5 linked regions of the Homo sapiens genome follow. The protein of the gene in region 5 purifies or fractionates together with the protein of the main gene of each other region. This does not show direct contact. Each region holds a gene or a part of one and is shown on either strand. Other genes may lie near its edges. The genes, in order: TMEM169, TTC1, FNDC3A, DCAF10 and SORCS2.

The links.
Region 1: the proteins of SORCS2 (region 5) and TMEM169 purify together in Homo sapiens (co-immunoprecipitation; one large-scale study listed by IntAct). This does not show direct contact.
Region 2: the proteins of SORCS2 (region 5) and TTC1 purify together in Homo sapiens (affinity purification with mass spectrometry; one large-scale study listed by BioGRID and IntAct). This does not show direct contact.
Region 3: the proteins of SORCS2 (region 5) and FNDC3A purify together in Homo sapiens (affinity purification with mass spectrometry; one large-scale study listed by BioGRID and IntAct). This does not show direct contact.
Region 4: the proteins of SORCS2 (region 5) and DCAF10 purify together in Homo sapiens (affinity purification with mass spectrometry; one large-scale study listed by BioGRID and IntAct). This does not show direct contact.

The regions. Positions count from the first base shown.
Region 1 is NC_000002.12:216,090,501-216,097,255, forward strand, and holds part of TMEM169 (transmembrane protein 169), read left to right. Parts: intron 1-5,337; 5' UTR 5,338-5,463; coding exon 5,464-5,734; intron 5,735-6,755.
Region 2 is NC_000005.10:160,010,732-160,017,486, reverse strand, and holds part of TTC1 (tetratricopeptide repeat protein 1), read right to left. Parts: coding exon 6,629-6,755; intron 2,829-6,628; exon of another isoform or gene 1-2,828.
Region 3 is NC_000013.11:49,201,201-49,207,955, reverse strand, and holds part of FNDC3A (fibronectin type-III domain-containing protein 3A), read right to left. Parts: coding exon of another isoform or gene 6,685-6,755; exon of another isoform or gene 6,163-6,684; intron 6,157-6,162; coding exon 5,990-6,156; intron 4,800-5,989; coding exon 4,672-4,799; intron 876-4,671; coding exon 561-875; 3' UTR 1-560. UniProt on the Homo sapiens protein: Mediates spermatid-Sertoli adhesion during spermatogenesis.
Region 4 is NC_000009.12:37,802,532-37,809,286, reverse strand, and holds part of DCAF10 (DDB1- and CUL4-associated factor 10), read right to left. Parts: intron 1-6,755. UniProt on the Homo sapiens protein: May function as a substrate receptor for CUL4-DDB1 E3 ubiquitin-protein ligase complex.
Region 5 is NC_000004.12:7,199,038-7,202,537, reverse strand, and holds part of SORCS2 (VPS10 domain-containing receptor SorCS2), read right to left. Parts: intron 1-3,500. UniProt on the Homo sapiens protein: The heterodimer formed by NGFR and SORCS2 functions as receptor for the precursor forms of NGF (proNGF) and BDNF (proBDNF). ProNGF and proBDNF binding both promote axon growth cone collapse (in vitro).

The sequences.
Region 1 (6,755 bases), on a different chromosome or scaffold from region 5:
CATCTTTAGAGATCTTGAAACAAAACCAGCTAAGCCACTCTCACACTTCTGACTCAGAGAAACTATTTATAGGAATCCCACAGAAATGTTGAGAAAATTCTATTCACAGAATACTAAAAGGTTCAGAAACCATAAAAACAAAAAAACACTTTTGGACCTCCAAATTCTATAGGCAGGAAGCAGGTAGAGAAGACTACTCACCACCCAGCTAAGGCACTCCCAGTTTATTGACGCACATAATTGTGTGAGATAATAACTTTTTTATTGTTTTAAACCTTTACTTCTTGGGTAATTTGTTACATCACAACAGATAATTCATATTCTTGTACTGTGACATCTGATATATTCCAGACTTGCAGGAAACTAACAGTAAAAAGGATCCCCAAATTTAGGAAAACACTGTTTTTACAGTAGCCTTGATAACAAGTAGCCACCAGAACTAGTTTTAAACATGTTCAATCAACAACTGCCTAAGTGAATACATTTTTGAAAGCCATCATCAGAGTGCCAGACCCTGATTGGCCAAAAGTCAACTCACACTAGTGTGAAAGTCAGCCAAACAGGGACAGAGCCACTCACCTGATTGACTTTCAGAAACAAAGGACTGACTGGATGGGTTAATTTCCAAAAACATGTTTGCTGAGTGTTATGGTATGGTTTGTTTTCCCCCCAAATCCATATGTTGAAATTTCAGCCCCCAAAGTGATGGCATTAGGTGAGGCTTTATGTCATGACGGTGGAGTCCTCAGGAATGGGATTAGTGCCCCCATAAAAGAGACCCAGAGGCTAGGCTCAGTGGCTCACACCTGTAATCCCAGCACTTTGGAAGGCCAAGGCGGGCGGATCATGAGTTTGAGAGCAGCCTGGCCAATATGGCGAAACCCCATCTCTACTAAAAATACAAAAATTAGCTGGGCATGGTGGCGTGTGCCTGTAGTCCCAGCTAATTGGGAGGCTGAGGCAGGAGAATTGCTTGAACTTGGGAGGCAGAGGTTGCAGTGAGCCAAGATTGCGCCACTGCACTCCAGCCTATGCGACAGAGTGAGACTCCATCTCAAAAAAAAAAAAAAAAAAAAAAAGAGAGAGACCCAGAGAGCTAGTCAGCTCCTTCAGCCACGTGAAAACACAGTGAGAAGGCACCATCTATGAACCAGAAAGTGAGTCCTACCAAACCCCTAAACTTGATCTTGGATTTTTTGCTCCCAGAACTGTACAAAATAAATTCTTGTTGTTTATAAGCTACCTAGTCTATGGTATTTTCTTATGGCAGCCCAAATGCACTAAGACACTGAGGGAGATTGTTGTTGATCAATTGAACAGGTTTAAAACTGGTTCTATTGTCTACTTACCATGACTACAAAATAACCCATCTTTTCCTAAGTTTGTGGGAATGTTTTGTAGTCTCAAAGGATAGTGTTCTAATTGTAGGGAGATGAGGAAATCATGTTTCAAGGTAAATCAAGGACAGTGTCTCTGTCCTGTGACTACTGTAAGTAGACATTGGCTGGGCACCTTTCTAAAATGAGCTGTGCCTGAAGCAAAAATAGCCCCCCTAAGGTGAATAGCCAGGAGCTCACCCTTTACATTTCATATTTCTTGTCTAAGGTTTTAATGGGATGTTCAAAAGTCATCTCTCTTTTTGCCTCTGATAGGATTGTCCCTCTCCTCCATCAGCCAACAAGATGACCATGTTTATCTTTTATATCCCCAAGAGACTCCAAAGCTTCTCTTAGCTACTATTTTCTGTACTAGTCTGTCCCTGGGCTCAGGAAGCTCTTCCTGTTATCTAACATTGGCCTCTCCCATTGTGCCCAACCAAATCAAGAGTGTCGAACACTACACCTTTTTATGTTTTTTTTTAATTAAATTAATTCTTTTTTTGAGTGATTCGCCCGCCTTGATCTCCCAAAGTGCTGGGATTACAGGCATGAGCCACCGCACTTGGCCACTTTTTAATGTTTATAAGGCCCATTAATAAGGGTCATCATCTCCATGCATGTGTTCACTTTGCCCTGCCACATCTTCCTAGAGCACCACCCCCTCAACAAAGAGAGAGGAAAAGGGAACAAGAAGTATGAGATTTGCAACTTGCCTTCTCACGTGTACTCTTTAACATTTCTGTCTCCCTTCTGAACATCTTGGTACATCTTTAAAGAAGGAGTAAGGAGTACAGAACATAAACCTTCTCCCAGCTCTGAAGCTCTGGTCCTTTAATCTCCTCGGGGTCTCAACCCCTAGTTTGAAAATTCATGCTGTATAGAAGGGCCAAAGAAGGCCCTTCACAAGCTGCCTCAGAAAACAACAGAGAGAAACAGATGATCTAAGTAGGAAAACACGGTGGATTAGGGTGGCCTCCCAAGCTGTGATCATTGCACCTTCAAGTAAGTACAAAGTGGTTTGTTCAGAGGTCATTCCTACCATAGAATTACCATGATGCAGCTTTCTGAGTGTCAGTGTATAAGAGGACTTGGACCAGGGAAAACATTTTTGTATTAAACATAGACACTTAGAGAGTAGAATTACAAATGTATGTATATACACATTTGTATATAAATATACATATGTATAAGTACATATATAGATATACATATATATGTATATCCTGGAACTTAACGTAATAATGAAGTGTGTGTGTGTGTGTGTGTGTGTGTGTGTGTGTGTGTATACATATAAAATCTTCACCTGGGGGTGGATTGCATTCAGCCTCCCCATTCAGTTTCCTCTGGGTAGAGGTCCACTGTCCTCTGTGTAGAAGCCACTTTGGTAGAAGAGCCCTGGTCAAGCTCATCAATGCCCAAGGCCTGCTCAGCATTCTAATGGTTGGATTAATTGTCCTCTGGAGCTATTTACCTTGGGAGGGCTCTCTCCCCTGCTTCTTCCTGTGTACATCCTTGTACTTTTAGACACCTCAGCCAAATGAATCTCCTGGTCCAGAAAGCTCCATGGATAAGAATTTAAAGATAATGGCTTTCATTCTGCCCCTAGTACACCCCCTAGACAAAGTCAGGCAGTGAGGACGTAGTGAAACCTGCCCATTTCATCCTGTGGATCCTACCACTAAGATTCTCAATTGTGTCGCTGGGTGCCTGATTTATTCCAGGCATTGGGTTAAGTGCCCAGTTATAAAGTTAATTTAGATCCAACATCTGCCAATCCAATGGAAAGACAAAGAAAATCAACAGAGGCTAGAGGAAATACTGGGTGAGAGGGCAGCAGAGGAGAACTCCCCTGCCTGGAGGGGGAGAAAAAGCCATTCCATTGAGCTTAAAATTTACCTAAATTTTAGAAACATTGAAATGAGAAAAAAAAATATGTATTCTGGCATTTTAAGAGATATGCTATACAGTACTTCCTGTCACATGGTAATTACCAAAGATATATAAATTTGCTTCAAAATGAATGGAGCCTAGTGGAATTCTAGAGCCTAGTGGAATTTTTGCTTCTTTCTTCTCTCCACTGCCCCACTCCCATCCACTGGGCCAGAACACTAGACATTGGGAACATTTGAATACACATGAGAGAAGAAGCTTTATTATTGGAAATAAAGGGATGGCAAATGGTGTACATGTGGCAGTAAAATAAGGCTCAGAGAGCACTGAAATACAGTGAGGGATTTGGGAGTTGGGAACAAAAGTAACAGCCAGTAACCTGGAGTTGCTGAAGAGTGTACAGCCTCGAGGAGTGTGGGGCGGCAGGGTTGTGAGTAGAAGCTTGCGATTCTGAATAATATGCACAGTTATTTGAAAAGTGGGGAATTTTTTGGTAAATCGCTTGGAAACTTTTTATATCCATAGCGGGTACCACTATAGTTCATAAGTTATTTTTCACAGTATAAATGCCAATAATATTGCATAACAGCAGGACCATTTGCCTCTTTCACTAGGATTAAAACTGGGTATGTTAAAAGTGCATGAGAGTATTCTAGCTAATAAATGAAGAAGTCAGAGAAATGGAATATCATTTTGTAACCCCCATGATTTAATGGGTATAGTCAATGGCCATTAACGGGCTGTTAACTTCACAAAAAGAGTCAACCAGACATTAGGGGACTTCTAATGGAAGTACAAACACCACCTCTAAAATTGTCCTGCCAAACAAAACAAACCATCAACCAAAAAAATTTCAATGTGAAATTGATCAAGACTTTCTATTTAGCTATCAACTCATAACACAGAGTTCAGAGGAACACACTGTGGGGATGCAATCAGCAAAACCCAGGCTATGAGAATCTGCAAGATAAATGACCCGCTTTCTTTAACAAATAAGTTACCAGGAAAAAAAAATGAAGGACAGATATACAGACCTGCACTGTCCAGAACAGAAAGTGGAGAGACACTGTTATTTTAAGGGGGAAAGTGAAGCCTCTCCACCGCTCTTGCAGCACGTGATAGGACACATCCCAGTAACTTTTTGAGATTGTGGGCTGACAAGAAGCCAGGAGACAGATTTCCTTTACAGAATAGCAAGGTAGACACAGTTGGTGAGGTTGTACCATTTGAGTGGCTTGCTTAATGTTGTATTTATCCATTTGAGTATAGTTTTAATGTATGATTCAATAGCCAGAAGTCTGGAATACTGGTCCCAGCCACCTATGGTTCTTTTTTCTTTCTTTTTTTTTTTTTTGACAGAGTCTCGCTCCGTCACCCAGGCTGGAGTGCAGTGGTACAATCTCAGCTCACCAGGCTCAAGCAATTTTCCTGCCTCAGCCTCCTAAGTAGCTGGGATTACAGGCACCCACCACTACAACCAGCTAATTTTTGTATTTTTAGTAGAGATGGGGTTTTGCCATGTTGGCCAGGCTGGTCTCAAACTCCTGACCTCAGGTGATCCACCCGCCTCGGCCTCTCAAAGTGCTGGGATTATATGCGTGAACCACTGTGCCCAGCCTACCTGTGGTTCTTAACTCTCACCTACTGGTAAGGCTTCCTCACCCAACTTCCTTATACTCTGCATGCTCCAACTAGAGGCTGATTTATACACAAAAATCGGTAACACAAGCAGACTATGCTAACTACTTATGTATATAAAATAAAGAAACAATAATTGTTGACTTTCATATGAATAAGGAAAATGCAAATTATGACAACAATGAGATATAGTATTCCTTCACATGGGTTTTGCCAAATATTATATGTTTGTATAAATGACAAAAATATTACTGTAGCAAAAGTTTATTCACTGTCTATTATAAGAGATTTAGATTGCATTCCCAAAATAAAGTATTGCAAGAAGTAAAGGGAGAGGAAGGCTTCTGCTAAGTTGAGGATCGTTTCCCACATTCCTGTCCATCTCACCCCATTTGCTTCCTGTTGATGGCTTTGCTTTCCTATCTTTCAGGTGGAATGCATCCTTGGGACATCTTTGCATAGCCCCATCTAGGAAGAAGTTCTGTGATGTGTGAACTGTGAGTTTACTCAAACAAGTCCAACTCTTTATAAGACATAGGTAGACGTCAGGTCTGGAATGGAAGAGCCAACAGCAGTAGAAGGCCAGGTCCAGCTTCCAAGCCCCCACCAGGGCTCTCTCAGGAAGGCTGTGGCTGCTGCCCTGGCGCTGGATGGGGAATCCACAATGGGGCACAGGAAAAAGAAGAGGAAAGAGTCACGCCCAGAATCCATCATCATCTACCGCTCAGACAATGAGAAAACAGATGAGGAGCCCGGAGAATCAGAAGGTGGAGATCAGCCTAAAGAGGAGGAGGGAGATGATTTCCTAGACTATCCTGTGGATGATGGTAAGTCTCTCTAGCCCACTTGTTTAAAGCCATGGGAAGGAAACCAAAAGGGCATCTTCCAGAACAGACAGGCATATGCTCACTGTCCTATTTCTTCTTGGTGATACATTTCTTCTTGCAATATTACCACCTTTTATTTATTTATTTTGAGACAGAGTCTTGTTCTGTCACCCAGGCTGGAGTGCAGTGGCATGATGTCGCCTCACTGCAACTTCCACCTTCTGGGTTCAAGTGACTTTCCTGCCTCAGCCTCCTGAGTAGCTGGGACTACAGGCATGTGCCACCATGCCGGGCTAGTTTTTGTATTTTTAGTAGAGACTGGGTTTCACCATGTTGTCCAGGTTGGTCTCGAACTCCTGGCCTCAAGTGATCCACCTGCCTCAGCCTCCCAAAGTGCTGGGATTATAGGCATGAGCCACTGACCTGGTGCAATATTACAGTCTTCATTCAACAAATGGTCAGTATTTACTGAGCACCTATTACATTTTTTTCTAGATGATACAGAAATCTCCACCCTTTCAGAATTCCTAATGAAATGGAAGAGGCTGATTTATACGCAAAAACTGGTAACACAAGCAGACTATGCTAACTACTTAATGTATGTAAAATAAACAATAATTGTTGACTTTCATATGAATAAAGAAAATTATGAGAAAATTTGCCAGAAGAAAATCATATGGCAAATTATGACAACAATGAGATATAGTATTCCTTCACATGTAGGCTTGCCAAAAATTGGGTAAAATGTGATTACATCAATATGAGCAAATGGATATACTTCATGCACCTTAGTGAAAGTGGAAGCCGCTTCAACCACTTTGTGGAGGAAACTTGTCAACGTTTATTAAATATTTAGTAAAATTCACAGTTCAAAACATGCATACCTCATGACCCAGAAATTCTCAATATCTACTCCATGAAACTTATGCCCATGTTATCCTTGTATAAGGAGGCATATATAAGAACATTTGTTGAAGCTAATGCAACCATGATGTGTTTGTATTAAGAATTATTGTGGAGG
Region 2 (6,755 bases), on a different chromosome or scaffold from region 5:
TTTTGGGATGTGATTAAGTCATAAGGGTTCCAACCTCATGAATGGATTAGTGTCCTAATAAAAGAGGTTGAAGGGAGCTGCCCTGCCCCTGCTGCCATGTAGGGACACAAATGGTGCCATCTGTAAGGAAGAGGCCCTCACCAGACACTAAAATTGCTGGCACCTTGATCTTGGACTTCTCAGCCTCCAGAATTATGAGCAATAAATTTCTATTATTTATAAGTTATCCAGTCTAAGGTATTTTGTTATAGCAGCTCCAACACACTAAGATAGAATTTTTGTATCATAATGTTATTATTGCAATTCTCTTCTGCTGCTACATTTGTCCTTCACCTTAGCCAAGCCTCTCAGAACCAGTTATTTGCTTCACATACCTAGTACATCTCAAATGTTAGCTAAAATTCCATTCCTGTGGGTAGTTATATCTACATTTAAGCTTTCACAAATAGTTAAGATTTACTGCTGAAATAAACACACGAATACACTATACTCTCTGAGAGCTTTTCCTGTTTTTACCAAATCTTAACTGCTTTCCTCCTCAATTATTCTTGATTTATGAGTCCTGCTGAGAAGTGACACTACACTTGAGCGTGAATTATCTTCCCAGCCACAGGACAAGTGAAGTTAGCTTGATTAACAGACTTTGGCTACTATTATTTGGTTGTGTCCAACAAGAAACCTTTAATACTACATAGACCCTGTACGGAATAGCACTTCTTTCCCAAATCATCAGGGGTCAGCTTCATGTGCTTTTGTGGTAGGGCACACAGTTTGGTTGTAAAGTAATCAATTTTTATTTATTTATATTCTTAAAATGGAATAATGTAATACAGGCTTACTGAAAAAAAAAGCAAATATTACAAAATTGCATTACATATAAATTAAAATTCCCTAATAATCATACCTCTCAAAGTTACTTACTGCTTATACTTTGGTGTATATCCTTCAAATTTGTATGTATAAACATATTTTCACATAGCCTTAAAAGAAATCATCACTGTTGTATAACCTGATTAATTAATTTGACATTATATTACAGGCAGCTTCCCAGGTCAATACCTACGATTCATCTTTTTAAAAAAATTTTTTAAATTATTTATTTATTTATTGAGACAGAGTCTCATTCTGTCACCCAGGCTGGAGTGCAGTGGCGTGATCTCGGCTCTCTGCAACCTCCGCCTCCTAGGTTCAAGCAATTCTCGTGCCTCAGCCTTCTAAGTAGCTGGGACTATAGGTGTGCACCGCCATACCTGGCTAATTTTTGTATTTTTAGTAGAGATGGGGTTTCACCATGTTGGCCAGGCTGGTCTTGAATTCCTGGTCTTGAGTGGTCTGCCCACCTTGGCCTCCCAAAGTGCTGGGATTATAGGCATGAGCCACTGCACCCGGCCAAGATTTACCTTTAACAACTGCATTGTATACTACATAAATATAACAACAAAATTTAAGTAATACTCTGGGAAGAACACATTTTTCTCTCCTACTATACCCTCCCAATAGGTCTGACACCAGATGAGAGTGTTTTCCACACTAAACAATTCTCCAATGGACACCAACGGAGTGTCCTATAATTCAATTCAGTTCTGTCACTATCTCCAGGTAGACAGTGTCTGATCCCACAGGTTAAGAGTTTAGTCTCATAAGCCTGGCCCCACTTCAGACACTAATCACAAGTCCCAGGTTGTGACCTATGATTCCGACTGAATGGTTAGCACAGGGTTCTTACCACCCTCTCTGTGGGTTCAATAATTTGCTAGAATGGCTCACAGAACTCTGGGAAACACTTTACTTACACTTAGTAGTTTATTACAAAGGACATTATGAATGATATAGAACAGCCAGGTGAAGAGACACACAGGGAAAGGTAGAGGGAGAAGGGGTGCAGAGCTGCCACGCCCTCTCTGGGTGCTACCCTCTTAACACTTCCATGTGCTCATCAACCTGGAAGCTCATCAGATTTCTAGTTCAAGAGTTTTTATAGGCCAGGCGCAGCAGCTCACACCTGTAATCCTAGCACTGTGGGAAGCTGAGATGGGAATATTGCTTGAGTCCAGGAGTTCGAGACCAGCCTGGGCAACATAGTAAGACTTCATTTCAAACACAAAAAAATTTAGCAAGGTGTGGTGGAAGGCGCCTGTGGTCCCAGCCACTTGGGACATTGATGTAGGAGGATTGCTTGAGCCCAGGAGGTTGAAGCCTCCAGTGAACTATGATCGCACCTCTGCACTCCAGCCTGGGCAACAGAGCGAGACTTGGCTCAAAACACAAGAAGAAAAAAGCTTTAATGGAGCTTAATCTCCAGCACTTGCCCTCCTCCTTTCCTGGATTTTGGTAGGTGGTGCCAAAAGTTCCAACCCTCTAAAACTCTAATCACTTAGTCTTTTTGGTGACTGGCCCCATCCTTCCTTAGGCTATAGATAGGCCAGATCCTAAAAGTTATCTCATTAGGATGAACTCAGGTGTTATCAAAAGGGGTACATTAAGAATAACAAAAAAATACACTACACTATCAGAAAATTCCAAGGGTTCTAGTGGCTCTGTAACAGGAACCAGGGACAAAGACCAAATAAATTTACTATACTACAAATACCCTGTTTAACATTGTCTAGCTTTCCAAAATTATGAATGATGCTGCAACACATCTATGTATATACATTTGTGTATATTTCTAATAATTTCCTTGAAATAAATGGCTACAAGAGAATCAGCGTTAATGCTGTCATGTCCAATATGGTACTTACTAGCCACATGTGACGATTTTAAAATTATTTATTTATTCATTTTGAGACAAGGTCTCACTCTGTTGCACAGGCTGGGGTGCAGTGGCGTGATCATGGCTCACTGCAGCCTTGACTTCCCAGGCTCCAGGGATCCTCCCACCTCAGCCTCCTGAGTGGTGGGGCTACAGGCTTGTGCCACACGTGATTATTTTTATTTTTAAAGGCTTTTTAAAAAATTTTAATTAAAAAAAAATTTTTTTTTTTTTGGAAAGACAGGGTCTCACTATGTTGCCCAGGCTGGTCTCAAACTCCTGGGCTCAAGTGATCCTCCAGCCTCAGCCTCCCAAGTGCTGGGATTATAGGAATGAGCCACTATGCCTGGCCCATGTGACTATTTATTTATTTTCTGAGACGGAGTTTTGCTCTTGTCTCCCAGGCTGGAGTGCAATGGCCCAATCTCGGCTCACTGCAACCTCGACCTCCTGGGTTCAAGCAATTCTCCTGCCTCATCCTCCTGAGTAGTTGCGATTACAGGAGCCCGCCACCAGGCCTGGCTAATTTTTTAATTTTTGGTAGAGATGGGGTTTCACTATGTTGGCCAGGCTGGTCTCGGGTCGAACTCCTGACCTTAGGTGATCTGCCTGCCTCAGCCTCCCAGAGTGCTGGGATTATAGGTGTGAGCCATCCCGTATGACTATTTAAATTAATTACAATAAAATTCAGTTCCTCAGCCGTAATAGCCACATTTCAAGTGCTCAATAGCCTGATGTAGTCAGCAGCTACCATACTGCATGGTGCAGGATGTAGAACATTCCTATCCTTGTAGAAGAGTCTATTGATAGCCCTATCTAAAGAAATGGTCACATAAAAATTTGGTATCTGCATCCCATGAAGTGACATAACAATTTAAATTCTCAATATTAGTATATGAGTTCCAACATCCTCTCCTTGTCAACATCAGATCAATATTCTGATCTGATAGATGAGACATAATGTTTTAGTTAGTATTTTTTTTTTTTTTTTTGAGACAGAGTCTTGCTCTGTCACCCAGGCTGGAGTGCAGAGGCCTGATCTCAGCTCACTATAACCTCCATCTCCCAGGTTCAAGCGATTCTCCTGCCGCAGCCTCCCAAGTAGCTGGGATTACAGGCGCACACCACCACGTCCAGTTAATTTTTGTATTTTTAGTAGAGATGGGGTTCCATCATGTTGGTCAGGCTGGTCTCGAATTCCTGACCTCATGATCCGCCCGCCTCAGCCTCCCAAAGTGCTAGGATTACAGGCATGAGCCACCACGCCCAGCCTGTACTTTTCATCATTATTAATGAGGCTGAGTCTTTTCACATTTTTTGGCCATTTTTTTTTTTTAGTCATTGTTGAACTATCTGAACTTTATTTTAAAAGATTCAAATATAACACTATCCTGTTTCTGATGAGCTATTAAAGCCAAACCATATATGTAGAAGACATTTCTTCAATCTGTTTCGCTGGCTTCTTGAAAATTTTGGAAAGATATTTATCAAAATAGCATACAAACACCTAATAAGAGTAGTACCACAGTTAGCTGAAGGCAATCTGCACTCTTATAGGTTGTTTCCTTAAAGTAGAGTCAGTGGCTTACATTTCTCTAAATAATAAGACTAGCACTGCAGTATGTTACTGTTATGAGATATTCTTACAAATTTTCAAATTAGCTATGAAAACACTTAGACTGATATATAAATGAATAGAAAATATTTATGTTTTAAACATGAATACTACTGTATGATTATGTTTATATGAATGTCTGGAACAGGAAAAAACCACCTATGGGACAGGAATCAGAAGAGTGGTTAACCAGAGACTGGCAGGGTTGGGAAAGGAATGACTGATAAAGCACACAAATGGAGTTTCTGACATGATGGAAATGTTCTCTATCTTGATAGAAACGTGAACTATGCAGGTGTATACAATTGTCAAACTCACTGCATTCTACACATGAGAACTGATATACAGTTTCACTAAATTATATCTCAATTTTTAAAAGGAGGAAAAAAGTGAAAAAAAGTATTGTTCTACTTAGAATATTAAACTTACAGGCAATAAAAATAATTATCCTCACTGGGTGTGGTGGTTCACGCCTGTAATCCCAGCACTTTGGGAGGCCAAAGTGGGAGGACTGCTTGAGCCCAGGAGTTGGAGACCAGCCTTGGCAACATGGTGAGACACTGTCTCTACCAAAAAACCCACAAAAATTAGCCAGGCAGGGTGGTGCAAGCCTGTTGTCCCAGGTGCTCAGGAGGCTGAGGTGGGAGGATCCACTTGAGCCCAGGAGGTTGAAACTGCAGTGAGCCGTGATCACATCACTGCACTCCAGCCTGGATGACACAGTGAGATCCTGTCTTAAAAAAAAAAAAAATCATAAAAGTATTTATAGAACTTAAAGTATGATTTTCTGGCCTAGGAGACACAAAAAAAGTTTTACTAAATTAGAGGTAGGGATCAGACTTTGTGACACCTTGAGCCAAACCATTCAACTGTCAAATCCAGAGGGCACTAGAAAATTAATATAATTTCAGGGCAAAATATATTAAGGTATCAGAAAAGCACTACTAACTTTTTAACATAGATGCATAATCAGTGTTTCTAAAAAGCCTGAAACCTGTTATAATGTTATGGAACAGTAGTTAATTTTTTTGAGCTGTATTTGCTGTGGTAGTTTATGAACTTGGCTCACTTTTGCCCTTTTTCCTCCTGTTCTGGTGGTGCACACTAGCACAAAAACGAACACGTTCACATTAAAGCTAACTGATTTGATAATGAAAAGCGTCTAAGGAGAGAGAAAGAGAAGATGCTCCTACCCACCCCAGGCTACCTTCCCACCCCCACTGTTAGGCTTAGGCTGAACATTTATTATCTCATCTCAATACCAATGTATCACAACCTGTTCAGTGAGTGAGCTCCTTAGTGGCATAAACTACAATCTAGTTCAAGTTCTTTGTAGACAAACTCAAGACATTACAGTAACTCTTCAGAGACTACCTTGCTTGTGCAATCAGAAGGAAGTAGGACAGCAGGACTTCAGTCTCCAAAAGTGAAGGCTTGCCCAGTTAAGGGTGTGGCCCCAGGGCAAAGAAACAGGAGAGTGTACATTTTATTAGTCTATCTGCTTTGTAGGAAGACAGATGTTTTTGTTATTACATTATACATTATACTCTAGCTTTGGAATCCAACAGATTTGATTTGAGAATTAGTTTTGCAATTCATTAGGTGTTTGATCTTGGGCTAGTTACTTCATCCCTCTAAGCTGTTTCCTTATGGGAAATAACAGTATGTATCTCATAGGCATGTTGTGATGATTAATGAAAACACAAGTAACATTTTAAGTCAGTGGATGGCACATTGTAGGCATTCAACAAAGGATAGCTAGCTATAATCATACACAATTCTGTTTCTCAAGACCTCTGCAACCAAAACCCCACCAAGATATTCAGGCAGTCATATTTTGCTAACAAGGGATTAGCATAAACAGGAAATGTTCATAAACATAAATGTAGCATAAACATAAAAATGTTCATTACAGAAATCTCAGCAGCCAACCGTAGAAAAGTTCATAACAGAAAACTAAAAAGTATATATACATTTTGAAAATAAACAAAAAGACTGTTACATTACAGACTCCTGAAGTACAAGATGAACATAACTGAAGGTTCACAGAAAATAATGAAAATTTCTTTGTTAAGCAGACACACTCAAGTGCTTCCCTGTCACGCCACCGATTTATCTCAGATCCAACACTACTAAAGCCATAAGAAGACAAAGGGGCAAGTTATTCTTTACCACAGATGAGGTGGTCTATGATACAGTATCGACCACATTTTAAAATGCAGTGTAAGTGGCAGATCTTGCACAATAAATAAAATACTTACCTGTTTCTCTTCATCCGACATGTTTTTTTCCAGTTCTATTAGGTATTCTTCATCTAGTTCAGAGGAATTCACATCTTCATTAGATTTGTTCTCAACCTTGTCCGCTCCTGGCTCCTCCTCAAATGAG
Region 3 (6,755 bases), on a different chromosome or scaffold from region 5:
TCATGCATACTCTTTCATCCAGTTTTTGTTTCTAAGCCCCTCCAGTTACTCATCATAATCCCACTTACCAAATAATTAAGACAAATGAGGAGGTAGAAATATAGCACTAGATTGCTTTCACAGCATCAGACTTTAACATTTTATATAGCATGTTAGTGTAAATTCTATTCATTCTGAATTTTTCACTTGGTAATAATCTTTAAAACAAACAGATCAGGTTATCACTGTTACACTCATGCCGATTCGTCAAAATATCCATTCTAAATTGTTGCCTCTTAGAAAGTTTTTCTATAAGAAGGCATTTGTTAAAAAAAGAGAGAGGGAAAGAAAAAAAGAAGACCCACCCTAACAAAAAAAACAAAATTGATATTTTTGTGGCTTGCATTCTAATAAAGTGCCAGCCTCTACCTAACAATATAAGCACTGAAAATGGCAAAAATGATGTGCTATAGTCTCAATGCCAGTGCTAAATGCCACTGTTTTTTATAAAAGCAATACAGAAATAATTTTAGTACATGACAAAATAAAATGTAATAGAGTTAAAAAATAAAGTTATATTTTCACTTGATTACAAAGTACTGAATGATAAAGGCAATCAAAATGGAAAAGAAAGCAAACAGCACAAGGATGACGGCAGCACACTGCTCGTCACTCAGTGCCCGTCGGGTCCTTGTGCTTTCCACAGTGTCTCTGTTGGTGCTGGCTGGTGGTTCAGTCCTCTGAGAGATGAAGAGCACTGTGGTGCTGTAGGGACCTACGAGGTCCTGGTGTCCCAGAGAGTCTTGGCACTGGCGAATGGCACATACACGGAAGCGATATTCACAGTTCAGCTGAAGGCTGGAATACCGGAAGGAAGAGTCGGGACCCTTGTAAATCTGTTAATAAAATATTAGAAGGAAGAATTACGTGTGAAGGCTGGACAGAAAATGTGTTAAAACTGGCTAGTGTTAGAATTGTTTTTCATGTGAAAGCCAGTGAATGCCATTGATTTTATCTTTTAAATGACATGTTAAAAATACCTGTCCATTAAAGTACTTATCTGTTTGTTGCATAGGGGCAAGAGAAATTTCAAAAGCGAGGATCTACCCTTATACGGTTCACAGATGAATTAAGGAGTGCAGATGTGCCCCAGGGCAGCTAGAGAACAAGCAAAATCGGTCCTCAAGCATTTTCTTGCTTTTCTCAAATGTAAGAAGTCATTTTTCAATGCAATCATTCCATCAAAGAAGGGATAGTGTCTACTTTTGCTTCCCCCATTATGTCTTTGTATAACTGATAAATTTCCATATAATTTCAAACATATCTGTACAATGAAATGGAAAATGAATAAGGGGAGCTTTCTATAGGTGCCTATGGCAAATCACTGTATAAACCAGAGAGGGGAGATCACTTAGAATCAGAAAATAGGACCTCCTCTGCCATGCCTCACAAGGGAAATAAAAAGAATGAAATTCCACGGATTTTCAGAGGAATGTGCTAGTAATTAACCCATTTATGCCAGAGGTTGCAAATTTTTTTTTTGTGAAAAATCAGACCTTGGCAATAACCTTGATCAGTGAGATATAAATAACTACCACAAGCTTAGTGTTCCAATAATGGAACACTAGGCATAAATAAGAAGCTATATACTAGAACTGTTCACCCCTGGCATCCAAGGTCTGCTCTACCACTTCACACTCCAGATGTGATTTTAGACCAACTACCTTAGTATAACAGACATACTAGTAGTTAACATGTATGATAATTATGAGGATGAAATGAACTAATGCTTGTTAAAGCACTTAGCGCAGTGCTCAGCATGCAGTCACTGCTCAATCTGTAGGAGCTATCATTTCCAATAATGAGCAACCTCCCACCACTCATTCTGTAATTGAGAAAACCAAGGTTCATAGGGTTAAATGACTTGTCAGTTGAGTTTCTCCAGTTAGTTGGTGGGCTACAAGTCAGAAGAACCAACACATGGGGGCTTTCAAGTACTTTTAGCTGCCTCAATTGTACCTGTGATGTAAATCTAAATTTTTACATATTGCTTTGCTCTCAAAGTAAAGTAAGATCTCTGTCTCATTTTTCTGTCTCCAGAATCTAGCATATAGTAGGTACTTAATAAAAGGACATTAAATTAGTGAATTATTGGCAATAAATAAAAATGTGGATGCTGATAACAATATATAAAGGAACTTACTGAAAGAAGCTTTAAGATAAATCTGAAAGAAAATGGTGACTATACATTAGTTCTAAGGATGCATAATGTTTCAGGGAATAGAATGTAGAAATGATCCATGTTTGGGAGATGGTACAGGTTGGGTATCCCTTATAAGAAATGCTTGGAACCAGAAGCATTTCAATTTTTTTGATTTTGGAATAGTTGCATATTTACTAGTTGAGCATTCCAAACCCAAAAATCTGAAATTGGAAATGCTCCAATGAGCATTTCCTTTGAGTGTCATATCGATCCTCAAAAAGTTTCAGATTTTGGGTGGAACATTTTGAATTTTGGACTTTATTTGGGATGCTTCAACCTGTAAAAGGATTCACTTAAAACAGAATGTTGTATGATAAAGTAGTGTAAAATTGTATACATAACACTGAAGTAAATTGAGTAAAAATTAAAAATATGTATTTGTCTTATGGATATAATAGATGATTTTTGTCTTTATACTTTCCATGTGTCTTCATATACCATTCCATGAGCCTGGCAGTATTAGGTTAAGAAAGAAAAACCTCAACAAATGGCATGAGGGTGATAAGAGATCTGGTACAAAGAGGAAGAATACATTAATTACACTAGTTGGAAATTTAGGTTAATTCAAAAGGGACCACTGTAGGTGTGTGACATTAAAACAGTGTTTATGGAATCCTAATCGTGAGGCTGTGTGAAGGACTGAAGGGAGCTGAGTAGGACAGGGACTCTTGATGTACATGTAAAAAGTGATGAGGCCCTGATGTAGTTTTATGGATTTAGAAACAAATTCTGATTAAGAGTTGATAGGAAAAAAAAATTCATCTAAGAATTTAAAGCTTGGAGACCAAGATGATATTGGTGTCTATGACACTGATGAAGTAAAGATGTTGGAGAGGAGATACTGGGAGGGAAGATGATGGGATCAAGTTTTCAATTTTGTATTTCAGATGTGGGAAGACCTCTAAGCAGGAAGAGACACAGGTAACTGTAAATACAGGACTGAAGAAAACAGATTAACCTGCTCAAGCTAATTTCAGAAGGTTTATACACCCAAGAAAAGTCATTCAAACAAGCCTTAAGGTTATTCATATACTACTCAAATGTGGAATCCCTATTTCCTTTAAACGTGTAATACAATTATATTTTCTTTAATATTAATTTTGCTTCCTCCTTAGAAGGAAACCTACTTATCTGTAAATTACATTTCAAATCTAATTATCCTGTCAATTTGCAGATGGCTTAATAAAGAAAAACAATTGCATGCCAGATTTAATCTGACTCTTTGGATCTTTTGTAATTTCAGTTAAGATATTACATAGAGTGGTTACAATAGCACAATACTGGAATAAAACAAATGAAGGATCTTTTTTTTAGTGGAAGAGGAAAATATAAGACACAATGAAAACAACCCAGCTTAAAAGCCCTCAAAATTAAGGTTACAGGAAAAAGGGAAAATCAGGTGAAATGTATAGGTATTTAATTAGTCTTTGGAGTGGTATAAAAGCTTATTCTTTTTAAAAGTTGTAACAAACATTGGCAACACTCCACTCTATCTCACTGCTATTCTTGCTTTATCAGAAAGCTATCTTTGAAACCTCTTGGCTAGGAAGGTGACAATTCCTCTAGGTTTCCATTATAACTTCATGCCTAATGTCATATTTACAGCACTGCATTATGACTATTATTAATACTATTATTGTAAAAGCCTCCTTATTAGTCTTTCTAGTTCTGCCCTTGTCCTACTGTAGTTTCAACACTATAGTCAAAACAACGTTGTGTCTGATCACGTGAATACCCTGGTCAAAATCCTCCACTGTCTTCTCATTTCACGTGGAGTAAAAGCCACAGTATGGCCTATTATGCCTTACGTCACTCCATACCACCTATAGGCCCCTTAGGATTAACTATCCGACCTTATCAACTCTTCCCTTTGCTCTCTCCATCCAGTCATATTGGCTCCTTTATGTTCATCAGATTTAATAGGCATGTTCCTGCCTCAGCGTATCTTCTTGGAACACTCTTCTCTCCATAGTCATCTCCTCTGGGCCATGCTGAAATGTCAGCTGAGTGCCCCAAATGAAATAACACTCAGTGCCCTCCCCCTCCACTCCCTATTTCTTTTATCCAATTTTGTTTTTTCTCCATTACACTTATATCTGACAATATATTGTCATGTTTACTTGCTTATAGTGTCTTCTTTTCCACCAGAATGTAAGTAAGCTCCATGGAGGCAAGGGACTTTTTGTTCAGTGCTATATCCTGAGTGCCTGGCACAGAATTCAATGAATACTTATCAGATAAATGAATAATCTGTTCAAGTGTAGTTCATACTGAAAAGATTTGGAATCTTGAGATCTCTGGAACATAATATATACTGAATAAATATTTATGAATTAAAAGGTAAAGATGGCCAAATCTTACACTGAAAATACATAAAAATTAAAAAAGGGTAAAAATATGCATCCACACATTAATATCTTGGTACATACCTGTTTGAATTCTGAATCTTTTCCCAACATAACTTGAAGACTGTAAATAACTGGATCACCTTTCATTGGCTGTAAACACTCCCATGTAATTTCACAAATGTGATCATTTACTTTCTCTATTTTGGGGGCTGTAGGAAACAAATATAAATAATATCTGTTCCACTTGATTTTTAATTTGGTACATCATGCAGACACTTGTCTTAATAAAAATCAACAAATATTTAAAATCCACTTATAAACTTGAAATAAGTATCAGTGAATTTTTGAAATTTGCATCCAAAGAGGTTAAAATCAGCACTCTTGTATTCTAAGATATGGGATCTCACTCTGTCACCCAGCCTGGACAACAGTGGTGCGATCATAGCTCAATGCAGCCTCAGCCTCCTGTGCAGCTACACACACAGGCATATGCTGCCATGCCCAGCTGATTCAAAATTTCTTTTGTAGAGAGGCAGGTCTCAGTATGTTGCCCACGTTGGTCTCAATACTCCTGGCCTTAAGTGAGCCTCCCACTTCAGTCTCCCAAAGCACTGGGCTTATAGGTGTGAGCCACTGTGCCCTGCTTATAGTCAGCACTCTTCTTAAAGCTAAGAGACACTAAACTTGATGAGCAAACAGAAAAATGACTCAGTGAAACTCAATATTATTAGAAAGACTAGTCAAGAAGAGTTCTGCTGTTTAACAAATGATAGGTTTAAGTACATGATCTAGGATATGGTTCTAGAAGTCTCTGTGATTAGTCTTCAGAGCAATTAACTTTATAGACTTTTCAGCTAAAAATAGAGTGTAGCCCTTGCCAGAGTCACTTTAAAATAAGAACCCCTCTAAAATTAAAAGATAAATGTATATACAAATGTGTGTAAATATGTGTACATGTGTGTGTAAAACTAATTGAAAAACCCACATTAATGAAGAATTTGTTTTGCTTAACAGATGACCAAGCTTTCCTTCTGAAATCCAAATGAATGTAATATCAATAACTCAAAACGTTTAAACAACCAGAGTTTGTGATTTTTTTCTTTAAGCAAATGACCTCATTAGAAAACCAGCCTTCCTATTCAATTTAGTATTTTTATGCTACATTATTAAAAACATCAGTGACAAAAGCCAGTACTTGTCTGAATATGAGCGTGCCAGATAAAACAGCTTTTATTATTGAGTGGAACTCTCAGTAGAGTTGGGCTTGCCTATACGATTTTGTATAACTGGTGGACATATACTGGATGCTAAATTTTAATATCAGTAAACAAAGCATTTATGAAAATACATTAAAAAGTAATTTATTATAAAGAAAATAAGTTCAGGATGTATAACTTACCTTTCAAGGCAGCTGGGACAGATTTTGGAGTAGTGAAAATATATTCTTGGGAGAGGGGACCTTCCCCAGCTTCATTACAAGCTTGAATACAGAATTTATAGGATGTTGACTCATTAAGTCTTTGTACTTTGTATGTATGACATGGTCCTCTGTATAGGGATACAAACCTAAAATGGAAATAACTATTAGATAAACCTTATACTACCTTATGATACCTTATTAAAGTGTTTTACAAACTAGTATAAAAACACAGTTATGAACATTATTTAGGAGTGATAAGTTACCCCAAAAGTTTGATGCCAGGAACTCTATGTCACTTAAAATAAATCTGTTTTTCATCAGATTAAGAAAAATAGGATATTTGGTAAATTTCCCAATTTGACATGATTTACCAAAAGTCTGTTACTAAATTTCATGTCCGACCATAACTGTTTCTTCTCAGGCTTCCGGTTTAGCTTTGTTTCTGAATACTGTTTTGTTAATGTACATTTTAAAAGATGCTCAGAACATCACAATTTTCATTACAAATTATTTCTAACTAAAGTCATATTGATAAAATTTGCCAAGTATGGCATAGAGACCTGAGCTATGAGATTAAGTTTCTATTTTAATCTTCCTTGTCTTTATCTGGAAAAAAGAGAATTCTCAATTCCCAGGCAGATTTTTAGTTGACTTGGTGACGTTTTTTTAGAGATTTACAAAAGCAGTATGATAATATAAAATTTCCAATACATTACCCACTTGAACTGTTCAATGAAGTTGAATA
Region 4 (6,755 bases), on a different chromosome or scaffold from region 5:
TTTATTAAAGACTATAATTTTCCTACTAAGTACAGCTTTACTTGTATCCCACAAGTTTTGAGACATATGATTTCATTATCATTTAGTTCTGAACATTTCTAATTTCCATTATAATTTCCCCTTTGACCCATGAATTTATCAATTCTTTTTGAAAATGAATGAGACTTTTCTAGTTATCTTTTTTTTTTTTTTTCTTTGAGACAGAGTCTCATTCTGTCACCCAGGCTAGAATGCAGTGGCAACCTCAAACTCTGAAGCTCAAGCAGTCCTCCTGCCTCACCTTCCTGGGTAGCTAGGACCACAGGCACATGCCACCACACCAGGCTAATTTTTAAATTTTTGTAGACAGTCTTTCTTCCTTGCCCAGGCTGGTCTTGAACTCCTGCCAGATCCTCCCACCTCAGTTTTCCAAAGTGCTGGGATTACAAGTGTGACCCACTGTGCCAGGTCTCTGGTTATCTTTTTAATTATACTTGTCTCTTGACTTCCAAAAATATAAAATATATAATATATATTATATAAATATATATTTTATGTATGTATTTTTATATATTTTTATATATAAATTTTATATATAAATATAAATATATAAATATATATTTATATTTTATATTATATAATATATTTATATTTTATATTATATATTTTTATATTATATTATATAAATATATTATATTTTTATATTATATTATATAAATATATTTTATATTATATATTATGTATTATATATTTTATATATTACATATATTATATATTTATATAATATATTATATAAATATATGTTTTATATATTTATATATTATATAAATATATATTTTATATTATATATAATATACTTTTACATAATATAATATATATATTTTTCTTGAGACAGGGTCTCATTCTGTCGCCCAGGCTGTCGCCCAGGCTGGAGTGCAGTGGCGCGATTTTGGCTCACTGCAACCTCTGCTTCCGGGGTTCAAGTGATCCTCCCACCTCAGCCTCCTGAGTAGCTAGGACTATAGGCATGAGCCCCACAACTGGCTAATTTTTGTATTTTTTGTAAGGATGGTCTGGAACTCCCAGGCTCAAGTGATCCACCTGCCTCAGCCTCCCAAAGTGTTGGGATCACAGGTATGAACCACCATGCCAGCTAGTTATCTTTTTATTTACTTCTAGTGATCACATTGTGGTGAGAAACTGTATTCGGTATGATACCAATCTTTTGAAACTTGTGGTCTCATATGTGAAAATTTTATAACTGTTCCTTGTGTGTTTGAAAAATATAAGGATGAAGCGGCTGTTACATACAGTTAAGTGTGATATTCAAAGAGGTTAAAAATTCAGGCCAGGCACAGTGGTTCACACTTATAATCCCAGCTCTTTGGGAGGCTGAGGTGGGTGGATCACCTGAGGTCAGGAGTTCAAGACCAGCCTGACTAACATGGTGAAACCTCATCTCTACTAAAAATACAAAATTAGCCGAGCGTGGTGGTGCATGCCTGTAATCCCGGCTACTTGGGAGGCTGAGGCAGGAGAATTGCTTGAACCTGGGAGCTGGAGGTTGCATTCAGGCAAGATCGCGCCATTGCAGTCCAGCCTGGACAACAAGAGTGAAACTCTGTCTCAAAAAAAAAAAAAAAAAAAAAGAAAAGAAAAGAAAATTCAGTGGTAATATAAATTAACATAAATAAAATTTAAAAACATTTTCTAAATAAATTAACCTATATAGATTATAAAAATGCTCACCAGGTGATAACCATTGTAGCTCAAATTGTTCATTAAATCATTCTAGTAATTTTCAATCATTTATTAATTTTTGGAAATTGTAGCCATAATCTTTTATTTGACACAGATGCCCTTGTCTGAACCATGAATTGACATAGGAAACTAGATAAAGCCCTTCTAAGAATGTCCACATTAAATTTATAGTCATTAAATAACTTGTAGTCATGATACGTTAAAAAAAATCACACTTTTTAAAATTTTTTGTAGAGACAAGGTCTCCCTATGTTGCCCCAGCTGGTCTTGAACTCGAGCTCAAGCAATCCTCCACCTTCAGCCTCCCAAAGTGCTAGGATTATAGGCATGAGCTGCCATACCTGGCCTAAAAAAAAGAAATCACTCTTAACATCAACAGAATTGTTCATGGGAGCTGAATCCTCTTTTTGGCTTTTGCTGAAGTAACAGTAAGTATATTTTAAAATGTTTTTAGCCCTTCAAATGCTTGCTGTTAGTTTCATATAGTCAATATTTGTTTAAATATATTAATAACTAAGTCACAAAAATAATTTATTGATATACTTAATTATATTAAACCTAATCCCTCAGTCCAGGTGAGAGGTAACGTAACACAGCAGTTAACAGCATACACCAAGGTACAGAACCTTCATTTAATAAACTTTCTGCTTCTTAATTCCCCCAACTAAATGTGTCTGGTAGACAGAAAAAGATGTATTTTGGTAGTCATTTTCATTTATAACATGAGTGTCATTAATGCCTACTGTAGGCAGGTATTCATTGGGTGTTGGCACACTTATCCTATCTAAATAATGGGGAAATTAAACAAGAATGATAAAACTAAGGATGTGCATCCCAGAAGTTATTCATCCATAAACCATCCCCACAGGCCTCGATCATCTGCTGTAGATTCTATCCTGCCATGGGAATGTATACTGTGCCAAGAGAATTAATATATTTTGATGGCAACTGCGGTAGTACAGTACTATTACTCTCATTTGACTGCTCTTCTTTCTGGATCTCCCGGGGCTGTAGTTCCCAAAGGGGCCATGTGAGAGTGATATGAGAAAGGTAGGCAGCCCTACTCTTAGGGAAGCCAGATGGTCACTGGGCCTATGGATTTTTTTGTGTGTTGGAGGTTGCCAGGCACGGGTGAGGAGTAATTAGAATGGCTGCTGCCCTGTAGTTCTCCAGTGAGATGTTTGCTGACAGTCTCTTGCTGTCCTAGTTCTTAACTCTTTAGTTGCTATATAATTGGTTACTATAGGAAGTCCCAAGGAAGGCGATGAAGCATTAAGATGACACTTAACAGGCTTGGGACAGTAACTGTTCAACCACTATGGACATATCAATATTTTAACAACTAGTATAGCTGAACCAGTATCAGCTGAATAGCAGGCCTGAATGTAGTCTACGAATGCCATTAAGAGTAAGATTTTAAGAGGTACTGTTCTTTTATTTATTTTTTAATTTTATTTTATTTTTTGCAAGACAGGGTCTCTGTTGCCCAGGCTGGAGTGCAGTGGCACAATCCTGGTTCACTGCAGCCTCCACCTTCCGAGCTCAAGTGGTCCTCCTGCCTCAGCCACCTGAGTAGCTGGGACAAAGGGACACGTCACCACAACCAGCTAATTTTTGTACTTTTTGTAGAGACAGGGTCTCCTTATGTTGCCCAGGGTGGTCTCAAACTCCTGGGCTCAAGTGATCCACCTGCCTTGGCTTCCCAAAATGTTGGGATTGTAGGCGTGAGCCACTGCGCCAAGCTACTCTTTGTCTTTTAATTAGAATATTTAGTACCTTATAGTTATTGCAACTAGTAATGTTTGGATTTATTTTCAGCTATTCTTTGTGCTTTTTATTTATTATATCTTGTCTTTTTTTCTTTTCCTTTCTTGCCTTCTTTTGGAATTTTTTTCTCATTCTGTACTTTTTCTTGTACTAGTCTGGAAATTATAATCTTTCTTGTCTTTTGGTTCCTTGAAAATTTTAAATACCTATTAAAGCCCAAAGTTAACATATATTATTATCCCCCCAAATACATAAAAACTTAGAATGTCACTTATCATTTATTTTTATTTTACTTTGAGATGGAGTCTCACTCTGTCACCCAGGCTGGAGTGCAGTGATGTGATCTCCGCTCACTGCAACCTCTGCCTCCCAGGTTCAAGTGATTTTCCTGCCTCAGCCTCCCAAGTAGCTGAGATTACAGGTGTATGCCACCACACCAGGCTAATTTTTTTGTATTTTTAGTAGAGACAGGGTTTCATCAGGTTGGCCAGGCTGGTCTCACACTCCTGACCTCAAGTGATCCGCCCGCCTCGGCCTCCCAAAGTGCTGGGATTACAGGCATAAACCACCACACCCGGCCTCACTTCATAATTTATATGCTATTATTGTCTTCTATTTTTGTTCCATCTCTATTAATCCCAAAAGACATTATCAGATTAACATGTACATACATATTTAACACTTTTTGTTCTTCATTCCTTCTAGCTTCTCAGACCTTCCGTTTGAAAATAATTTCCTTCTCTCTGAACTTAGAATTCCTTTATTGGAGGTCTGCTGGCAAACTTACTCAGCTTTCCTTGTCTGAATATGTATTTATTTCATCTTTGTTCTTGGCAAGGACAAAGAACCTATGTTTGTTGGGTATAAATCTAGACTGAGGGTTTTTTCCTAGCATATTGAAATAATTACCACTGTCTCTATATTTATATTATGGTTGAAGACTAATTGGCTATCACTCTCATAGTTGCTCCTTTGAGGCCTTTTTTCTCTACTTTTTTTTTTTTAAATGGAGTTTTGCTCTTGTTGCCCAGGCTGGAGTGCAGTGGTACGGTCTTGGCTCACCGCAAGCTCTACCTCCCAAGTTCAAGCGATTCTCCTGCCTCAGCCTCCTGAGTAGCTGGGATTACAGGCATGCACCACCACGCTCGGCTAGTTTTGTATTTTTAGTAGAGACAGGGTTTCTCCATGTTGGTCAGGCTGGTCTCGAACTCCCAACCTCAGGTGATCCACCCACCTCAGCCTCCGAAAGTGCTGGGATTACAGGCGTGAGCCACCGTACCCGGCCCCTTTTTCCTCTGTCTTTTAAGATTTTATATTTATTGTCCCACAGTTTCACTACAATATGTCTAGAAAGAATTCTTGCTTGGGTTTGTTGGGCTTCTTAAATCATGGCTTGGTGCCTTTCTTCAATTCTGGAAAGTTCTCAGCTATTATGTCTTCAAATAGTCCCCCTTACACCATATGATATGCTTATATGGTATAAGCGTACCATATAGTTAGCCAGAGTTCCTGAAGAAACTGGGACTATTTTCTTTAGGAACTCTGGCTAACTATATGGTATGCTTTTTCTCTCTATGCTCTGTGTTACTAAATCTCCTTTTCATATTTTCAATCTCTGTGTTTTCCAGGTCTGTATTCTAGTTAGTTTCTTTGCTTCTATTTTCCAATATGTGAATTATCTCTATAGCTGTGCCTAATGTGTTCTCATGGAGGACAGTTTGACAGGGTCTGACATACTATAATTTATTAACATTATCAATTTTACTTTTTCAAAATGTCATTTTAGAAGGTGATACACTTATTTTGACAATGTTTCTATCACTTAAAACATTTTTTGAATTCTTTAGAAAATACCTTCTAACCCATTTATCTTTTTTATTGCCAAATTCCTTATATTGTGGTCTCTATTAAATTCATAATTTTAATTTTTACATTCTGTGTCACCCCCTCCTTCTCTGTATTGAGAAGTCCTTGAGGGTGACAGTGGTTATGCTACCTGGTAAGCTGATTTAACTCATATTTAACTGAAAGATATGAGAAATTACCTCATTTAACACGGATATGTCATCTATCTGTAAAATTACTTTAAGTCCTACACAAATGTAGGGCATACTAGATGAAGTAAGAAGACTGAAAAATTAAAACACTGAAGTATTTTCACTCATCACCCTGATAAACATGAAAAAGAATGGCAGTATGCAGTGTTGCCAAGGGTATGAGGAGACAGGCATGTGTCTAGAATGTAGGAATCAGAATATAGTAATGAGAATTAGTATGATCTTTGCAGAGGGCAATTTAACAATAGATATAAAAATCTTCATAACAATAACTCATTCTAGGGATTTATCCTAAAGATATAAATATAAAATATTTGTTCAAAGAGGTTTTATTTAAACTAATGAAAAATGTTAATGTTGTAGAAATATATTTATTAACATAAGCAGTTCACAATTTACTGTAAGAAAAAAAGCAAGCTACAAAACAGTGATTCCATGTTTATATTAAAATAAACATACACAAATTAAAAATTTCCTTAGATATCCATTTAATCTCTGGGATCATAAGCAATGTTTAGGTATTTTTTGCTCATTTATTGCCTAGGTTTTACACAATGAGCATATATGTTAATTGTGTAATTTAAAATTATGGAATTAAGTGCAAGAGTTCCTAACCACCTTTTACAAAACTGTTATGAGAAAATACATTCTAGATTCAAACAAAAACTAAGCAATATATCCCTTATTCTAACAGCTCTAAAATCTGTTCTTCTCATTATACTCCCACCTAAAATCCCACATCCAAAAAGTAGAAATAGCTGCTTCTGAATTCCTGAAAGTATCGGTAGGAGGTTGGGAGGAGAGGGGCCGGGATATGAAGAGAGAAACTGAATATTTGAGGACAGACTGTTCGTGTTTTGAGGGAAACTTTAGGAATAGGGCTTGGCTGAAGGAAGGAGGCTGCGAGGTTCCATGAATAAGTTTCAGCAAAATAGTTTCTCCTCTCACCAGTTTTCCACCTTATTCAGGTGTGCATCCACTGCTACATGCTCCAACCAATTGCTGTTGAGACCCCAGAGACCCCAGCACCACGTGTGATTAGGAAGCGCTTCCATCATTGAAATGGAATAGAGTCTACTTGCTCACAGTAACTCCTGTTTCTATTCCTTTGCTCCTTCCTTAGCAACTTCAGGTCTTTCTTCAGTAAAATTTTTTGCTTTGTAAACCTATTTTTTTTCACCTCCTGTAACA
Region 5 (3,500 bases):
ATTACTAAGGAAGGAGAGTGCTGTTATTTTAAGATCTTCGAGCTGGTGTGAGAAGAAACTAATTAAATGATTGTAATTTTCTGTGCAAATACAGTAACTGACTGCTATAGAAATGCAAAATAAGAAGGAGATTTTCCACCTCAAAAGGACACTGGAGTTTTACCTTTTATTCCAGTCTTCCAAGGAGAGTCCTCACTCACTCAAGTATCCCTATTCCATTTTTTTAATGACAAATGGAGCTTAATTGGAATAGAGGTGACAAGCACCATAGGCCTTCTGGGAAGCGGTCCCGAGTCATGAGGCTGAATGGAAAAGACGTTGCTGTTGCCCTCAGCGGGCTGCATATCAATCAGCAGTGAGCAAATTGCCTAAGTCTGTGTTTTACAGCCTTGCAGAGCAGGTCAGGGATGGTCTGTGCTTGTGGGAACCTGCTGGGAGCGGGGAGAGAGGTACAGGGCATTCCCCACCCCCACCACCCACTTAGACTGACAGCCCCATGTCTGCACTTCTTCTACACCCAGAATCCAAGCTCACATCCAGGACGGCGCTTTCCAAGAAAAAGCAGGATGTGAACCAATGCAGAACACATGCCTTCACCTTTCCAAAGCTACAGACGGAGACCTTGCCCTCCCGGTGGCCAGAGCCAGGGATCTCTGCTCCCTGGACTTCCAAAAGGGGAGGACGTCGGTCAGGAACAGCAGCTGCAGCACAGCCAGGCTTCTCAGGTCATCGGCATCCCTGCAATCCACAGAGCACCCACCCAAACTAGCGACTAAGGAGGGGCGAGGACAAAGTGGGCCATTCGTAAGAACCTATAAATAACTCATCCTTTGGAGTCTGAAAAAAGAAAGACAAGGCGGCCCCAAAAGAGGAGGCAACGTACAAGCTTCCCCTCCATTTCTTCCTGCACCGGAAAAGGCACAGGGGTTCTCGGCAGCGTCCCAGCTGATTCGCCCGTCACTCCAGTCTGCTCTCCATCGAATCATCTGCACAAGTCTTAGCCTGACTCTGAAAAATCACCATAAAATAAAGTAACGGCTACGCCGAGAGGCCCACGCAAGCTCTGGGCTGCCTTCTCATCTGAGGGGCGTGCCGAGGAATGAGGCTAATTTATGACCTCTTTAGAATACTCTCAGGAACCTTCACGCAACTACAAATTAAATCGCCCTTTATTAAAGTAAAAGTGGATTTGTGAAATGTGCTCAGCAACTTTATTAACAGGGCTGTCTCTATGACTTCGAGCCAGGCTTCTTGATCAACGCACGAGTCTCTCCTGTGCCCATGAGCGCTCCAGGCTGCTCCAGCCCCTAGGCCTCTCCTTCAGCCTTAATATTCTCACCATTCCAACCTCCTCCTCAGCCCGGGACTCTACTCATCCTGCAGAGCAGCTCCATCTTCACCTCCTCCAGGAAATCTTCCCAGACTTCCCCAGCGCAGATTCACACGGCACCTAGAACGCGCTGGGGTGAATTCCTGTCCAGACCAAACATTTCACCCGCGCAGGGGCCAAGTTTGACTTGGCCCCTCACTGAATCCTCAGCAGCTAACAGCGCTAGGCACACAGAGAAGCTCGGTAAAGAGCTGAGGCCAACAGCCACCACGAGCCGGGCCTTGAGCTAGTTTCAAGAAGACAGTGAAGATGCAAGTGAGGTCGACACTCTTAGGAAATAAGATGAAGGAGGACATTGGTGGCTCTGCTGGCCAGGCCCCCATCCATGGAGTGTGTGGCCCCAGCACTGGCCTGACACACAGGAACCATGATCCTCATTTGATAAATGAGGAAAAAGGCTCAGAGAGGTTCAGTCCTCATCCAAGCGTGAACAGCAGGCACGGGTGAGACCAGCTGTGCCTGAAGCTCAACTCTCATGGAAATCTGCCTCCTTCATTACTACTTGAAAGAGGCTGCGGTGAGGTTCTTGGGCTGGGCATTCCAAAGTCTCTTCTACTTCATTCCCGGTCTCCATTCATATAAATAAAATACAAATAAATTAGCAAATGTGTACTAAGCATAAACAACGTCCGGGTTGGTAGTGACCTTGGAGATGGTCTGGTCCTGACGCTCACCTTACAGATGGGGAAACTGAGGCCTGGGGAAGACTGGCTACATGGGTGGCCAGCATGATGGGAAGGGAGGAGTGAGTGCCCAGCTGAGCGCTGCAGGGAGAGAACCCAGGGCTCCCCAGGGAGGAGAGGGAAGGCAGCACTAATGTGTTGGAGGGCAGGGGAGGGACCCCGGGGTCAGAGCCAGAGGCCATGTGGAACAGCATGGAGTGCACCCCTGGGTCCGGCTGGGAATCTGGGCTCACAACCACAACTCTGGACCCCTCAGTCGGCCCCTGGTGGTCCCGCTTCCCACCCCAAACCGAAAGTCCCTGCAGTGGCCTGGAGCATGGACATGGAGCCTCCTTTTGAGCACTTCCAGCGAGGGGGGATCAGGGCCTCCAGAGCAGCACGAGAGCCCATCCACGCTGCTGCCCTGCACGCGGGGCAACCGAAGACAATCCAGCCTCCCCCACCTCTGCGCTTCCCCACTGTGCACCAGAGGGGTGGACTTCCAGCCCAAAGCCAGTTTCTATCCCATAACCCCTCCTGCTCGCATTCCCCGGGAGTGTCGGTCCCTCAGGCAAGGACCCAGCAAGGCAGGGCACCTTAGGTCAGGTGAACTGATTTTGGGGAGTGGGAGAGTGGGTTTGGGAGCTTCTCAGGGGTCCTCAGAGGCAACAGGAACAGACCAGCACTTGAGGGGGTGCAGAGAGAGGACAGAACATGGGGGATCCACAGTCAAGGTCTCATCTGTTGAACTTGGATGAGAATACAAACGAAGGCAGAGTTTGTATTCTGCCTTCCCAGAATGGCCCGCCCCACCCAGGCCAGGGAAGCGGGTCTACGCAGCTCCCCATCCCAGAGCGGCCCGCCCCACCCAGGCCACAGAGTGAGTCTGTGAAGGCCAGACCACAGCAACAGCCTCCCTCGGACCCCAGCCAGGAAACACCATGGGCAGGAGCCCTGCTCAGGGAGCCCCTGCTTCACAGCACAGGCAATGGCCACGGGCAGCCCCTCCACCAGGCTCACCTGCCCTCTACACCTCAGAGATCTCTGCTGCTCCCCTCAGCCACACCTCCCCAGCCTTGCCAGTCATCCTCATCCTCCTCCACCTGTGGCCCATGTGACCCCCTCCCCAGGTGAACTGAGCTTCCCCTGCCCCACCTTGCTCTCCCTGCACTGTGCCTCCACACCGGCCCCACTTCGCTCCTCCTGAATTGCATCCCTGGGGCTCTCTGCCCCCACCCCGCTTTGGACCACAAGCACTTCAAGAGAAGGAGCCCATCCCACTGGCTCCAGGCCCTTCCTCTGCACCCCAGGGCTGACACCCGAAACACGATGACGAAACTAGGGCCCAGGTCGAGAGAGAGCACGGCTCCCCATCCTCCCGGCTCACAGGAGAATCAGAAGGATGGGGACTTCCGCAAAGTGCACCCAGCAGACCCCATGGGTAAGCA